Regions from separate parts of the Homo sapiens genome. Here region 2 is linked to region 1. Evidence: fine-mapped expression QTL. Tissue or cell type: whole blood. Region 1 holds a variant in brackets; the other region holds the start of a gene. All regions are shown on one strand. Distances are from middle to middle.

Evidence for each region. PIP is the estimated chance that this variant, and not a neighbour inherited with it, causes the effect.
Region 2: DTD1 starts here. The variant in region 1 is fine-mapped to the expression of DTD1 in whole blood (TOPMed, PIP above 0.99).

What each region holds. Positions count from the first base shown.
Region 1 is chr20:18,635,228-18,643,336 of GRCh38, forward strand. All of the region lies in intron 4 of DTD1 (D-aminoacyl-tRNA deacylase 1), which reads left to right. It also overlaps the pseudogene DUXAP7. Among named protein-coding and RNA genes, the nearest start is that of DTD1, 51 kb to the left of the region's middle. The variant GC/G (reference allele first, on the strand shown) is at 4,339.
Region 2 is chr20:18,583,718-18,591,826 of GRCh38, forward strand. DTD1 (D-aminoacyl-tRNA deacylase 1) reads left to right here and starts at 4,337. Exons shown (of 6, transcript NM_080820.6): 1 at 4,337-4,398. The coding sequence starts at 4,356. It overlaps LOC124904878 (a long non-coding RNA gene), which reads right to left and starts at 3,748. Exons shown (of 3, transcript XR_007067547.1): 1 at 3,708-3,748; 2 at 396-527. RefSeq lists enhancers at 1,508-1,802, 4,474-4,973, 4,814-4,873 and a silencer at 4,164-4,703.

The sequences.
Region 1 (8,109 bases):
GAACAAACGCTGACTGAGGGTCCAGCTTTGTTTATGCTGAAGTATCACCAAAACAGAAGTGGGAACTCAGCAAAGCGTCCTCATTACAGAGTTGTTGCTGTTGTGCAGTCTTTGTCAGTGACGCTGACTTCTGGGACGTAGGCTGCCACATGGAAGGCCTCCTACCAGGGCTAGGGCGCCACCTGGCCAGACCTCTCACCACACATGGAATCACCTGGATTTCTGATCCTTTCTGTCTGAGCACCTGCTTTCCATGAATTATGAGATCAGCTCAGCCCTCTGGGGAGTGAGTTGGGTGTAGAGATGGTGGAGCTCCTGACCTCACTCAGCCCAGCCCACTGCTCTGCACAGTCAGAATTTATCCTGAGTCCTTGTCAGTGCCTGGGGGAATGCCTGCCTATTGCATGAATATTTGGTATGAAAGGGTGGGAGCTTAGTAGATGTTTTTCTTCCTGGTGGAGAGCTGTAAGGGATCACTTTTATCACTTTAATTTGTTTCCAAATAGATGGTTGTCCTAAGTCAGCTCATAGTGGGCTTAAAAAGAAGCCTTTACAAGGCTGGCATGACTGTCTCTTTGTTGGGGACCCATTGATGAATTGATTAATCAATTGACTTTCACCTTACCATCTTAAATCCATAGCACAGGTTAAGGAAATTGCAAAAATTGAAAAGAGTTTTTTTCTCTTCTACTGGAATATGTCTGGTAAATTAAAAACTAGGATCTGTTTCTTTTCTACCATTGACACATAAGACATTTCTAATCTCCAACCAGAGCAAAATATCTGTTTTGCTTTAAACCAGTCTCTCAGGACACTAATGGGGTAGTGCATTTAAGGTTTAAGGGCTTTATTTGTTTGTTCCTGTATATGTGTTTTGGGCAGATTCCTAGTTATTTTAATCTTATAATCTCATTTGTGTGTGTGTTAAAAAAAAACGAACTCCTTACCTTGCTGACTTGACCTGCCAAAGATTAACAGCATCCTTTTTATTCTGAAGGGAGAGAGGTAGAGTTTTTCCTTCCATGGATTTATACATTGTGCATAGCAATAATTTAGTTAAACAGACTCAGTATTTTAATTGGGAATTCTTAGCTTGTTAAGTGATTTACCAGGAGCTTCACAGTCCCGGGTAATTGTAGAAAAATGTTCTGCCAGTCAGTGGTGTTTTGCAGAAAACCTTGCCGAAACATTTGCTTTAGTAATGGAGAGAGAATGAAAGATCTGGAAGTGATAGAATTCTAAAAAATGCAGCACTTGCTATACTTTTTTTACAGGCATAGATAAAACCCTTATCTACACAGAGGTGTTTGCCAGCTTGCCGCAGTATAGGTGTAGTCTGTAATGACTGATGAGGTAGTTATCTTTTTTAATCTTAAAGAGAAGGTTAGGATGGGTCAGTGGGGTGTGAGTTGGATCAAGTAGACTCTTAGGGGCTCACAGACTGGCCTGAGCTTATCCCACAAGTTTTGTATGTGTGGATGTGTGCAAGTGCCTTTTGCTGGGAAAAAGGGGACCAGGACTTTTGTCACATTCTCTGGAGGTCCCAAGAAGTGAAGAGGCTGGTGGACTGGGGACTGTTGTGTGCAGAGATTACACATTCTTTCTCTATCAAAGTTATCCAGGGGTTGGTGGTAGTGTTCCTCAAACGGCAGACTGAGGACCACTGGCATCAAGCCACCCATGGTGCTTACTAAAATGCAGGGTCCTGGGCCCACCCAGGTTTTCTGAGCCAGAGTTCCTGGAGTGTCTGGATGAGGAAGGCAGAAGAGTAGCCCATTTATGTTTCTAACCAGGTCTTTGTGTGCTCCTAAGCACACTGACATTTGGGAACTACTGGAATAGAGAGAATCAGGCCTTGCAGTGATCATCTGCTCCAGGTGTTGGTTTCTTCTGGACCACCCTGCCCTCCCTTCCTCACCCCCAACTGTCTAAAAATACTTTACAACCTATGTTACTGCAGCTGCCAGGAAACAAGATGGCTTTGCTTGATTATTGAGGTCACATGTGAGTCTGTTCTTATTCATCAACGAGCCCTCAGTCTCCCAACACCCCTTCCCCCTGCCACACAGGCAGTGATGAAAATGTTTCCAGAATATGGTGCCTTCTCAACGCAATTACAGATGTGTCAGGGAAAAGCCGATGCAGCAACAACAGCTCAATATGTTAGTGACTGATGATCAGCCGCTCTACTGGGTGACATTGAGGCATATGCTGGGGTAATAACTTTTTTCCTAGGAGAGATGAGCCCAACATGTGGATTGCTCAATGAGTGTGCAAGATTGTAGCAGTGTAGCCACTTTAAGACTTGTAGTTGAAAGTAATTTATAGTTTTCTTGGCTTTCTGAGTACCAGACATGGAATGCCTTACTCATCTGTCGAAGTGTTAATGGAACTAGAATAAAAACCCAGGGTGATCGACATCTTAGCCTCTGCATGGAAATTGTAGTTTAATGAAATTCATGAATGTGGAGGCTTCCATGGGCAGTTAGCTGATCATTTACATTTAAACACACATGGGAAATTGTTAAGGGCTCATATTTTATGATGTATTATTACCTATTCAGTTCATGGTAAAAGCTTTTCACAATGAATTGTAGACTAGTTTCCTGCAGATTATTTATTGTTTCATGAATAAGTATCACAATTTTTTCTCCTTTGTGTCTCTGCTCATCCACCTGAAATGAACTCCTTCCCTGTCTCTACCTGCTGACATCTTCCCCATCTTTTAAGGTTCATTTCAGATAGGTAGCTCTTCACACATGATGCTTACCTCAGTGCCCATCCAGGCGAGGCCTTTCTTCCTGCCTTTGGCTCCCCATCACGTGGTGTGGCAAGGATTTCGTAGTGGTAATGCCCTTGAATAAAAAGCTCATGCTCATTTGTTTGTTTGCTTGCTTGTTCATTTATCCATTTATCCATCCACCCATATGTCCCTCCATCTGCCCATCCATCCATCCATCCATCCATCCATCCATCCATCCATCCATCTATCCATCCACTCACCTGTCCACTACCTACTCATCCAATACCTTTATCCAGCAGATTATTATTGGGTGCTTGCTCTGTGCTGGCCCTGCATGTAGGTCCAGCACTGAAACAACATTGTACCCTCATGAAGCTTCCATTCTAGTGGAGAAACAAACAAAAACAAAAACAAGTATAATTTAAAATTCTGATGATATAAAGAAATCAAACAGGGTTAGGTGTAGAGAATGCTGTTGGCTAGAAGTCCCCTTAGGTGCAAGCGCTAGGGAAGGATGCTGAGATAAGAGGGAGCCAGTGAAGACTGAAGGAAGAGTGCCAGACAGAGGGGTCAGCAGATGCAGAGCTCTAGGGTGACTGGTGGAAGAAAGGCCAGTGTGGCTGGAGCTTGGAGGGTGACAGGGAGAGGGGCAGAACCTGAGGCCAGAGCTGTGACCTGGGGTTGATGGAACAAGGCCTCATGGGCCAAGGTAAGGAATTTGGCTTTTATTGTTAGTAAGCCAAAGACCTGTTAGAATGTTGAGAGCTCTGATTTGTGTTTGCAGAGATGGATGAGACTGGGTTTAGTGTAGGCTCAGGATCGGGGGATGTGTGGCTTGTGACAGGGTGGCAGAGAGGGCATTTAGGAGCTGTGGAAAGATTCTGGATACACTTTGGAGGCCCTCAACCACTCTCATATTCTGCCTTCCACAGTAGAGCTTTTCTGTCAGTGACTCATGTTTGGTTCTTTCATACTGTGGCTTGAGCATTAGAGAGTAATATTGTAAAGTTCAACCTCCCACAGTTCACTGCAGGAATGACCCCATTCTTGCCTCCAAGGCCAGCATGGTGGAGGGATTCCATGGCATGAGTTTCTATGATGACATCAGACATTGGACATCAAGGAGTGCGATGCTCACCCCTGGTTTTTAGTGATCCTTGGGCACAGTCTGGACACAAAAGCCAGAACTTGTTTGATGGTTTTTTTTTTAAGAAAAAAAAAAAAAAAAGCAAGCAAGTTCAGGGAAGCAGTCTCCTTTTTCCTGGTCAACATGAAGCCAAGTGTTTCACTATTGCCCAGTTTTCCCCCAAATACAAAAACATTAATTTTAAAAAGATACTGTAAAAAGCCCAAGAAACATGTATATTGAATTTGATTTATGTATACTATTGTAGCTAATATTTTCAGGGAAATTTCTAAATGTCTGTCATAGGAGCTTGTCAGAAAAAGAAAGATTTATTTTTGGAAAAGTATGTTTCCTGGTGTTCATTGAGCTTGGAAATTATGGAAAGTCATTGTCAGAAGGGAGGCAGCTGCTCCAGAGGCGGAGTGGAAGTCAGGACTGGAGAAGGTTGTCCTACTGTGGGCTCCAGCGT[GC/G]CTCTTGCTGCTAGCTGGTCAAGAGTCTCGCAGCAGCCACTTTATACCTCACTAGCTCCACCATCGCAATTATTTCTGTCAAAACGAAACACAAAAGAATGGCATGTCTATGAATATTCTTCACAGAAAATATATTCGTTTGACTATTTTCCATAAAATGTGAAGTCAATTTCTTTTTCTATTTTTAATCATGAAAGTGAAGCCCGGAAGCCTCAATTTCTTTGTAATGGAAAGATCTGAGTTTGTGGCCTTGTTTCCATTTTCCACTTCTCCTTTGCTAAGTCAGGAACATGATACTCACATAATATCCCCCGGGCAGTGGCTCTGTTCAGGAATTGCATGGCTGTTTGACTGCAGAGGGAGGGCAAAGGCTATTATTAACCATTCGTGTCATTGTTGGGTCATGAAACCTTCAGGGGATAAGTATAAGTTCTATAAAATTTCATTTTGAAATCCAGACCAGATCTGGCCTTATGCTCTGAGGATTTTTTTTTTTTTTTAAGTTTCATGTTGTCCCTTTGCCCCCCTTCATTTTCTCTTGGGAAGAGTCTCTTATTATCATAATTACTACTTGAAAAAAAATTCCAAGCAAGAAAGCAGTGTATTAACTGGAAAGTAACAATTTAGAAATGTTATTTTTTAATAGTAAGCTTTTATAGTATTCCTGGGTAGAAAGGTATTTTTATAGAAACAGTTATTTTCCTATCTTTTTTCTCATGAGTCCATAAAATAGCATTTTTATATCAATTTTTGTTATATCTAATACATAAAATCAGTATTCTTTTAAGAATTTAGAAGTTTAAGATACACTAAAAATATTTTTGACAATAACTCTCATTCTCAGAGGTAGCGCCGTTAATAAGTTCTATGTATTTACTTCCAGACTTAACAAAAATATGTTTACCCACATTTACACATGGTATCTCTGGGTGGGTATATGTCAGAAGATTTTTTTAAATTGTGTTTAATTATACATAACCTAAAATTTTTAGGTATACAGTTTCGTGGCATTAGTATATTCACATTGTTATGCAACTTTTATTATCACCATCTATCTGCAGAATTTTTTTTTTTTTTTTTTTAAGACGGAGTCTCGCTCTGTCACCCAGGCTGGAGTACAGTGGAGTGATCTCAGCTCACTGCAACCTCCATCTCCCAGATTCAAGCAATTCTCCTGCCTCAGCCTCCCGAGTAGCTGGGATTACAGGCATGCGTCACCGTGCCTGACTAATTTTTGTATTTTTAGTAGAGATGAGGTTTCACCATGTTGGCCAGGCTGATCTCAAACTCCTGACCTCAAGTGATCTACCCGCTTCGGCCTCCCAAAGTGCTGGGATTACAGGTGTGAGCCACTGCTCCCAGCCTATCTACAGAATTCTTTTTATCTTACAAAACTGAAACTTTACCCTTAAGTAGTAATTCCCGATTCTCTTCTCCCTTCAGCCACTGGCAACGGCCCTTCTATAATACTTTCTGCCTTTTGAATTTGACCACTCTGAGTATCATATGAATAATCATATGGTATTTGTCCCTTTGTGACTGGCTTATGTCACTTAGCATAATTTCTTCAAGATTCATCCATGTTGAGCCTTATGTTCATAGCATGTGTCAGAGTTTTCTTTTTATGGCCACAGAATATTCTCTTGTATACCGTATTTTGTCTATCCATTCGTTTATCCATGCACACTTGGGTTGTTTCCACTTTTTCATTATTGTGAATAGCGCTGCTGTTAACATTGGTGTACCAATATCTCTTCAAGACCCTGCTTTTAATTCCTCTGGGTAAATACCTAGGTACAGGTTGTGGATCATATGGTAGTTCTTTGTTTAATTTTTTGAGGAACCACTATACTGTTTTCCACAGCGTCTGTACCATTTTACATTCCTACCGGCAATGCTCAAGGGTTCTGATTTCCCCACATCCTCACCAACATTTGCTGTTTTGTATGTGTGTTTGTGTGTGTGTGTGTGTGTGTTTTCTGATACTGGTCATCCTAATAAGTGTGAAGTGTATCTCATTGTGGTTTTGATTTACGTTTCTCTAATGATTAGTGATGTTGAGCATCTTTTCATGTGCTCCTTGGCCATTTGTATATCTTCTTTGGAGATCTATTTCAGTTCTTTGCCCAGTTTTGAATTGCTTTGTGTTTTTTTTATTGTTGAATTGCAGAAGTTCTTTATGTATTCTGTGTATTAATTTCTTAACAGATAGATGATCTGCAAATATTTTCTCTCATCCTGTGGATTACCTTTTCACTCTGTTGGTGGTGTTTTCTGATGTACAGAAGTTTTTAATTCTGATGAAATCCAATTCGTCTGTTTTTGCTTTTGTTGCCTGTGCTTTTGATATTATATCCAAGAAATCATTGCCAAATCTAAATCATGAAGCTTTTTCTTTATGTTTTCTTCTGAGAGTTTTATAGTTTTAGCTTTTACATTTAGATATTTGATCCATTTTGAGTTAGTTTTAGTATATGGTATAAGGTGTATGATGTTTTTACTTGCAGACAGGTTGGGAGACCAGTATCAGGGACTTTATTTTCTGAAATCACTTGAGAGTAAGTTGTTGGCCTGATGCCTTCTCACCCTTGAATTCATTAGTATCTTTCCTGCAAACAGGGACATTCTCTTATAGAAGCCCCAAAACAGCTGTCAAAATCAGAAAATTAGCATTGACATTTTACTAGCAGCCATCTTCAGCCTCCATAATTTACCAGTTATCCCAAGGAGGTCTTTTATTACTATTATTATTAAGTTTATTTTCATTGTCTCAAGGTCTGCTGAACTCTGGATCCAGGCTGTGTCAGTAGGGTAGTGTGATGCCTCTTGTACCTATCTCTGCCTCCTACAGTTCTTTTTATTTATTTTATTTTATTTTTTATCATAGAGACAGGGTCTTGCTGTGCTGCTCAGGCTGGTTTCAATCTCCTGGGCTCAAGCAATATTCCTACCTCTGCCTCCCAAAGTGCTGAGATTACAAGTATGAGCCACCGCACCTGGCCAAGTTGTTTACCCTCTTCAGAAGGCTTAGCTTGCAGTTTCAGCAGAAGGATCGACTCCCAGGAAGACCGTGAGAGAGATTTGGGACCCAAGTTGATAATACTAAATACACTGAACTTGAGTGTTTTCACCATGTTCTGGCTCTAGGGAAGTGACAGTTGCTAGTGAGGTTGGTGCTATTGTATGTGTCTTCTGTACCTTGAAGTCCCTCAGAGATCTTGCCCCTGGTCTTCTTGTTCTAAGGACACAACAGGTTCCCTTTTTCTCTGAAGATGAAATCTAGATCTTTGATTTTGGAACCAAATTTGGACTCTTGACTCTGGAGCACCAATTTCTTTCTTTCTTTTCTTTTCTTTTATTTTTTTTGAGACAGAGTTTCGCTCTTGTTGCCCAGACTGGAGTTCAATGGTGCGATCTCTGCTCACCGCAACCTCTGCCTCTTGGGTTCAAGAGATTCTCCCGCCTCAGCCTCCCCAGTAGCTGGGATTGCAGGCATGTGCCACCATGCCCGGCTAATTTTGTATTTTTAGTAGAGATGGGGTTTCTCCATGTTGGTCAGGCTGGTTTCGAACTCCTGACCTCAGGTGATCCACCCGCCTCAGCCTCCCAAAGTGTTGGGATTACAGTTGTGAGCCACTATGCCCAGCCTGGAGCACCAATTTATTTAGCAATTTGTTCTCTGGAATCAATCCCAGGGTATGGGTTTTTCATAAATGCCTTGTTGAGAGTGCGTAGTTGAGAGGTGCTGTAGGTAGTACGACACCGTCTGG
Region 2 (8,109 bases), 52 kb before region 1:
TATATTAGCTCTTAGCATCTGCACATCTATTAATAGAGAAATACTGTAAATCCATGATACACTGTTAAGCCAAAAAATTGGCTTCTCACACTTATTCCTTTGGCAATATTACCTGAGCCCCAGGTACTGTGTTAGATGCTGAGGATTCAGTGGTAAGCATGAGAGACACAGGTAGAAGAACACAGCTTACCAGGCAAATAGACTCATTGAAAGTAGCCAGAAGATTATGAGAGAAAACCCACAGGACAAACATGAGAAAAACAGGGAGCAGGAACACCTACTTTTCTTGGTGTGGACAGAGAAGGTCTATCTGAGGAGGTGGCATTGAAGCTGAATACCTAAAGGCAGGAGAGGAGTGTGTTGTACAAAGAGTGAATGAATGTAGAGGAACCTACCTGTTCCAGGTGGAGCAAGAGCAGATCCTAAAGTCCTGAGCTAGCAACCAAAGACTATTTGAGGAATTTAAAGGTGGTCAGAGTCTGGATTGTTAAGACTTTATATTCTAAGAGCATCACTTTCATCTGTGCCTGGAGAATGGATTGGAGAAGGACAAAGGGGAGGTAGGAAGACCAGTGAGGAAGGTGTGGTAGAAATCCAAGTGGGAAAGAATGGTGGAGCAGGATGCTGCAGGAGGGATGGAGAGAAGAGGGCACTTTGGGATAGGTTTTGGAGAGGGAGAAGATTTGCTGATGGACGAGATACTTAGGGAATGGGGAAGAGAGCAATCACAGGTTACTTCTGGCTCCAGTAAACAAGTGGAGCCACTTATTTAAGTGGGGATTTTCCAGGTGCGATGGCCCATGCCTGTAATCCCAGCACTTTGGGAGGCCACGGCAGGCGGATTACTTGAGGTGAGGAGTTTGAGAACAGCCTGGCCAACATGGTGAAACCCCATCTCTACTAAAAATACAAAAATTAGCTGGGCATGGTGGCAGCACCTGTAATCCCAGCTACTCAGAAGTCTGAGGCAGGAGAATCACTTGAGCCTGGAAGGTGGAGGTTGCAGTGAGCCAGAACGAGCCATTGCACTCCAGCCTGGGTGACAGAGCGAGACTCTGTCTCCAAAAAAAAAAAAAAAAAAAAAGGTATGACTCTTATGGTGGAGTATGAAGGGCTTCGGGGTTCATTGAACACCAACTGGTGAATTGCAGTTCAACTCTGGCAGGAATCACCTGGAGTTAGAACAGATCCTGCAAGTTTAAGGGTACGTTTCCCAAAAAGATTGCCCCTATTTCAGGTGCCAACCACACTTGGGTGTCCCCAAACCACTTGCACTTCAGACCAACTGGCTACACAGTCAGGAGTATCCATGACTCCCTAGGGTTGATAATGCACTAGAATCACTCATGGAACTGAGGAAAGTGCTGTAATTATCATTTATAGTTTTATTATAAATAATACAAATTAGGACCAGTCAAATGAGATATGTTAGGCAAGGTCTGCGAGAGTACCAAACACAGAGCCTCTGTGCTTTCTCCCTGCGGAATCAGGGCCATTACCCTCCCAGCACATCAATGTGTTCAGCAACCAGGAAGCTCAATGAAGCTTCAATGTCCAGAGTCTTTCCTGGGATTTCATCATGTAAGCATGACTGATTGAATCATTGGCCACAGGTTGAACTCAATCTCTGTCTTCTACCCCTCCCACAGGTTGGGCTGGCTCAGACATCCAGTCACTATTGGTCTTTCCAGTGACCAGCTCCCAATCTGAATTGTCTTGTTAGTAAACTCAGGAATAATCAAGGAGCTCATGAATAACAAAGATACTCCTGTCTCTTGAGAAATTCCAAGAATTTTTAAAGCTCCATGCCAGAAACCCAGAATTAACAAAGGCCAAAGTCTTTATTGTACCATAGGGGTGAACATTTTGAATTCCATTTTAAGTATGTTAACTTTTTTTTTTTTTTTTGAGACACAGGTTTACTTTGTCACCCAGGCTGGAGTGCAGTGGCAGTGATCCTGGCTCACTGCAACCTCCGCCTCTCGGTTTCAAGTGATTCCTGTGCCTCAGCCTCCCAAGTAGCTGGGATTATAGGTGCCCACCATCACGCCTGGCTAATTTTTGTATTTTTAGTAGAGATGGGGTTTCACCATGTTGGCCAGGCTGGTCTTGAACTCCTGACCTCAAGTGATCCACCTGCCTCAGCCTCCCAAAGTGCTGGAATTACAGGCGTGAACCACCACGACCAGCCCAATTTTCCCTTTTTTAGTCTTATTCTTTCAGGAGTGCACAATGGAGTTTTCCAGGGGCTCCGTGACATATAGTGACTTCATTGCTCTGATATTCATATGTAGGGGATTTATTATTGCTATTTTTAAATGCATTGATAAATCCATGTTAACTATTTCTCTTAGTTAAAAACAGTAAACATTTTTAGATATAATCCACCTAAACAAAAGCTATACTTTGTGCCCAATAATTTTTAAGAATGTAAAGGGATCCTGTGATCAAAATATTGAGACCTGCTGATTTTTCAAAAACTCAAATTTTACCAGTTGTTCCAATAATAAGCTTTTCCTTTTCTTGATTTTTCTGGCCAGGATACCACCCAGGTTAATTTAGTTTTCCTGTCTTTTTTTTTTTTTTTTTTTTTTTTGAGACAGAGTCTTGCTTTGTCACCCAGGCTGGAGTGCAGTGGCACGATATCGGCTCACCGTAACCTCCGCCTCCCGGGTTCAAGCAATTTTCTTGCCTCAGCCTCCCGAGTAGCTGGGATTACAGGCATGCGCTGCCATGCCTGGCTAATTTTTGTATTTTTAGTAGAGACGGGGTTTCACCATGTTGGCCAGGCAGGCCTCGAACTCCTGACCTCCAATGATCCGCCCACCTTGACCTCCCAAAGTGCTGGGATTACAGGTAGTTTTCCTGTCTTTTAAAAAGTCCACGGCTGGGCGCAGTGGCTCATGCCTGTAATCCCAGCACTTTGGGAGGCCAAAGCGGGCAGATCACCTGAGGTCGGGAGTTCGAGACCAGCCTGACCAACATGGAGAAATCTCATCTTTAATAAAAATACAAAATTAGCCGGGCGTGGCGGCGCATGCTTGTAATCCCAGCTACTCAGGAGGTTGAGGCAGAAGAATTGCTTGAACCCAGGAGGCAGAAGTTGTGGATAGCCAAGATCACACCATTGCACTTCAGCCTGGGCCACAAGAGCAAAACTGCATCTCAAAAAAAAAAAAAAAAAAAATCCTCCTTAATTCTCGGAATCCTACCTGGTTATTTTGTAGAATGTTCCTCAATTTATTTTTGTCCTATGTTTCATCATGATTGGATTCAGGTTATACATTATTTGGCAGAAATACCACAAGATTGATGTTGTGTCCTTCCCAGTGCAATATCAGGAGGCACATGATGTCTTGTTACTGGTTATGTTAACTTTGACAACGTTATTAAGGCAATTTAGTATTCAGTATTTAACAAACAAGCACACTAGTTTGTAGTCTTTTCTGGGCAAGTGAGGGTTTCTTCTCAATTTCAGTGCCTTTTCTACGCCCACCAATGCTATTAGTCACCTTTAAGGTGAAGACTGCTGAGATGGAATTATTTTTAGCAATGATAATAATTTGTTGGGGTAATAGTTGTACAGCCCTTTGCTGCCATCTAAGCACTTTTACGTGGTTTGGTTCATTTAAATCTAACAACCCAGTGAGGGGGCCAATTAGTAGCATTTATATTACATGAGAAATTAGAATTCTAGAATCACATACCTATTTATTATCATGACATGGCTAAGTCGAATTAATAGTGAGATAGGTAAATGGCTATTTTAGGCAGCAGATCCTTTTGTATGTGGTATCTGAAAAGCCACTGAGGCAGGAAGACAAGGAAGAAGAATTTGGGAGGATCTGCGTGCAGAGGAGTGGAAGAGGAAAGAGGAATACAATTAGAAATAGGATTCAGGCTGAATTTAAAGGCTTAGTGATGACGGGTTCTTAGGTTCGGGTATGTGGGAGAAAAAAACCAGCATAGAGACTACCTTCGGGGCAGAGTGGGTTCTGGGCACTGGGTAGGGGCTGGGCCCGGGATGGGGGGATCAAAGGGCTCTGGCGGGACCCAGATGTGGATGGGGCAGGGCCGAGCGTGGGGACTGGGCTTTTCAATGACGGGCGGGGTTACGGTTGGGCAGCAGGTGGGCGTGGCAGGCATAGGCGGAGTCAATCTATGAGTGGGTGGGCCTATCGCCAGGCCGAGAGTGGGCGTGGCCGACGTGGGGTGGGTAGCAGCCGACCGAGTCGGACCGGCCAGTTGGGCGCGCTTCCGGGTGTCACCTCCAGAGGGCGCCGGCTGCGGAGCCGCCCTCAGAGTCGCGAGGCCGGACGCAGCGCGGCGCCGCCCCACTCGCCCCAGCCGCCGCCATGAAGGCCGTGGTGCAGCGCGTCACCCGGGCCAGCGTCACAGGTCAGTCGGGCGGGGCCGGGCCCGGGAGGAGCCGCCCCTGACCCCCGCGACCGGCTGTCTTGCGTGGGGGGTCTTCCTGCGCCATCCTTGGGGCCGCTGCGGCCCCTCCGCGAGCCTGGTCCCCTTCGCGAGCTCGGTCCGCGCAGCCGCGAGTCCCCAGGGCCGGCTTCGGGGCAGCGCGGCGGCCGGAGAGCCCCCTGCACGTGCCCGACCGGCCCCGGCGCGCCCCTGGCTTCCGGCTCTCGGCAGAGGGTGCAGGACCAGCGCGCCTCATTCTCAGCACCTTTGTCCTGCGTGCGGGATGGCGGAGCCTCGGAGCATCTCCGTGGTCCGCTCTTCAGGGAGTGTTGATGAACCACGCTTAGAGCATTTCCGGAGCAGGCACTCCTCCCTTTTCACTGCTGTATTTTAAATGTTCAATTTTTGCCCATTTTTACGTATTCCAATTTTTATGGGGCTTGACTCAGGATGAAATGCACAGATGCGGAGAGTTGCTCCTTGGGCTGAGCTTTGACAGTTGCGTGCACGTACGTGACTGGAGCCTAGGCTGGATGAGGGGCGCCCCCTGCCCAGGACGCCCCTCGCCCTCGCCCGCTGAACTCTGCGCGGAGGGGTCGGGATCTAAAGAATTCAAGATGAAAACATTTCTCTTTTTCTTGTGGACCAAGCTACCCGACCCCTGGTCATCACTCAGCACTTTCGTCTCGGTTGGGCATCAGAGGTCCAGATGATTAGTGTAGATAAAGTAGTCGTTTTAAGAAAACCACGGTACGAAAGATATTTTTTAAAAAACATTTAAATGACAAGCTTTATATTGTCTTTAGTCTTTTCTGTCTTTATTGGCACAACTATATTGTTTCAGTTCAAATAATTTCAGATATCCTGTCCTTGGAGCCAGTCTGCACCAAATATGCGTTCTTGTGTCCACAAAAGTATGAATTAAAAACAAAACAGGCCGGGGGCTGTGGCTCACACCTGTAATCCCAGCTCTTTGGGAGGCCAAGGCGGGCAGATCACCTGAGGCCAGGAGTTCGAGACCAGCCTGGCCAACATAGAGAAACCCTATCTCTACTACAAATACAAAAATTAGCCGGGAGCGGTGGTTGGTGCCTATAATCCCAGCTACTCGGGAGGCTGAGGTAGGAGAATCGCTTGAACCCGGGAGGCAGAGGTTGCAGTGAGCCGAGATTGTGCCAGTAACCTCCAGCCTGGGCGACAGAGCGAGACTCTGTCTCAAAAAACAACAAACAAACAAAACCCCAAAACAAAAAACAAAACAAAACAAAAACAACAAAAAACCCTAAAGAAACAACCAAACCCACCAAAACCGTATATTTAAATCTAAGAGTCTATTTTTCAACCCCGCCTAATGATTTCTAAGCTGTTCTGGTAGCTTTGGTTTTGGAAATGGTCCTGGAATAATAGGGAATAGAGTAGCACTGGGATTTAGGAATTTTAAAGCTTTTATAACATTTCTGTAGATATTTAAATTCATGAAAACTGGGAAAATTCATAGATGAAAGATGTTTTGCATTATTGAGAAGAACCTTGCAGTCTGCTGCTGTGTGTGGTCGTCACTGACAGATTTAAATTTTGATCTCTCTCCTGAACTCTCCATCCTGCTAATCTGGAATATTGAAAATGTGTATTCTGTGAGATGTGCTGAATAAGAGTTTGGGTTATTTTGGTTCACTATTTAAGTTATATGCTTTCAGTTAAAACAACCAAACCTGCATATTAAAAAAGATAAGGGTGTTAATTATGGGAAAGTGTAAATAATTCGGGAATTCTGGGTTGGGGAACTGTGGAATTCTGTTAGAAGGGCCCTCCACTTATGCAGGCCTTCTAGTTGCATTGTAATGGAAAGGGATTTTCTGATTCCTTTAAAATGTGGCTGGTTTCACTGAAATGTGGCTGTGTTTGAATGGCATTTTATTTTAGGGGTTCTAAAATGTTAACTTCCTGTTTTATGGTCAGGACAGCATAGATTATCAGGAGTCACACATTTTATTTTATTTTAAAATAGTTGGTTGACTTCACATTTATTTTAAATTTATGCATTTATGGTTTGTTTGTTTTAGAGATGGGGTCTTGCTCTGTCACCCAGGCTGGAGTGCAGTGGCACTATTATAGCTTACTACAACCTCAAACGCTTGGGCTCAAGTGATCCTTTAGTTTCAGCATCCTGAGTAGTTAGACTACAGGCGTGTGCCGCCACCGCTATGTCCAGCTTAGGAGTCACACATTTTACTATGTGGTATATTCAATTTATGTGATTGGTCAAACACATTTTTTTTTATAGTAACCCTGTAATATCATTTGATGCCCAGTCCATCAGATTTCTCCAATTGGCTAATTGGTTTTGTTTTTGTTTTGAGAGAGTCTTGCTCTGTTGCCGAGGCTGGAGTACAGTGGTGCCATCTCTGATCACTGCAGCCTCTGCCTCCTGGGTTCAAGCGATTCTCATGCCTCTGTGTCCTGAGTAGCTGGTCTTACAGGTGCGCGCCACTGTGCCTGGCTAATTTTTTTGTATTTTTAGTGGAGACAGGGTTTTGCCATGTTGACTAGGCTGGTCTCAAATTCCTGGCCTCAAGTGATTTGCCTGCCTCGGCTTCCCAAAGTGCTGGGATTACAGGCATGAGCCACTGCACCCAGCTTGATCAAACACATTTTGATGCCTTAGGTTGGGTACTGTGATAATCTAATTTTTAAAAGTTTATTATGGCACATTTCAAACATATTAACAGACGGAATAGGGCAATAACCCCCATGTCCCATCATTCATTGTCAGCAGCTAAAATTTGATGTCTGTGAACAGTGTTGGAAGAGGATCTAAAATGTTTGGGTTTAACTAGGTTAACTTCAAAGGTTATGAATTCTTGAAGTAGAGATCTCAGGTCTGATGCCACTAGTAGGTAGAAAAATTGACCAAACATCTCAGTCTTTTCCAGCCCTTTGATCTTTTGTTCAAAGTGGTGATTCTCAGATTTTTTCCCTTGGTGATCCATTTACTTATAATAAAAAATCCTTTTGAATCTCCTAGTCCTTCTACTTGTCCCTGGAGGGGGGACAAAACTGCTCCAAAATAAGACAGCAGTCTCTGTGTCATATATAGACTTTGGGCCATAATTTGTTTCATGTTAAGATAATTATAAAACTGTCAAAATTCTTTGACAGTGATTCTAGAATCTAAGCAGATAATCCTAACTGTAGAAAAGGCTTTAGTGTACGAAGATTTTCACTACACTGTTATTTACTGAGGTGAAAATTTTGAAAGAAGCCATATGTCCAGCAAGATGGAATGGTTAATCAGTCTACTTGATGAGCTGAATCTATTAAAAGGTGTTTAGGAAAAGGTTATGACATGAAAAAATTCTTATGCAATATTATTATAAAAATTTATATGCAATGTTATTATAGTAGTTGAAAACAAATATGAATTAAAATGTATGAATAGATACAATATTAAAAGGAAATCATTAAAATATTAAAGTACTTACCTTTGTTCTTTTTTTCATGTTTCTCATATTTTCTAAAATATATAATCCTTACTTTGATGATAGATATAACTTCATGACCTTTATTTTTTAAAACATACTTTGGGAAAAATTTAGAAAGTATATCAATATTGTAAGAAAGTAATGTTGATTTATTCAAAGAACAAATAAAGCCAAAGGCTTTTTCTGAAGCAATGCAAATGAGCAAACCAAC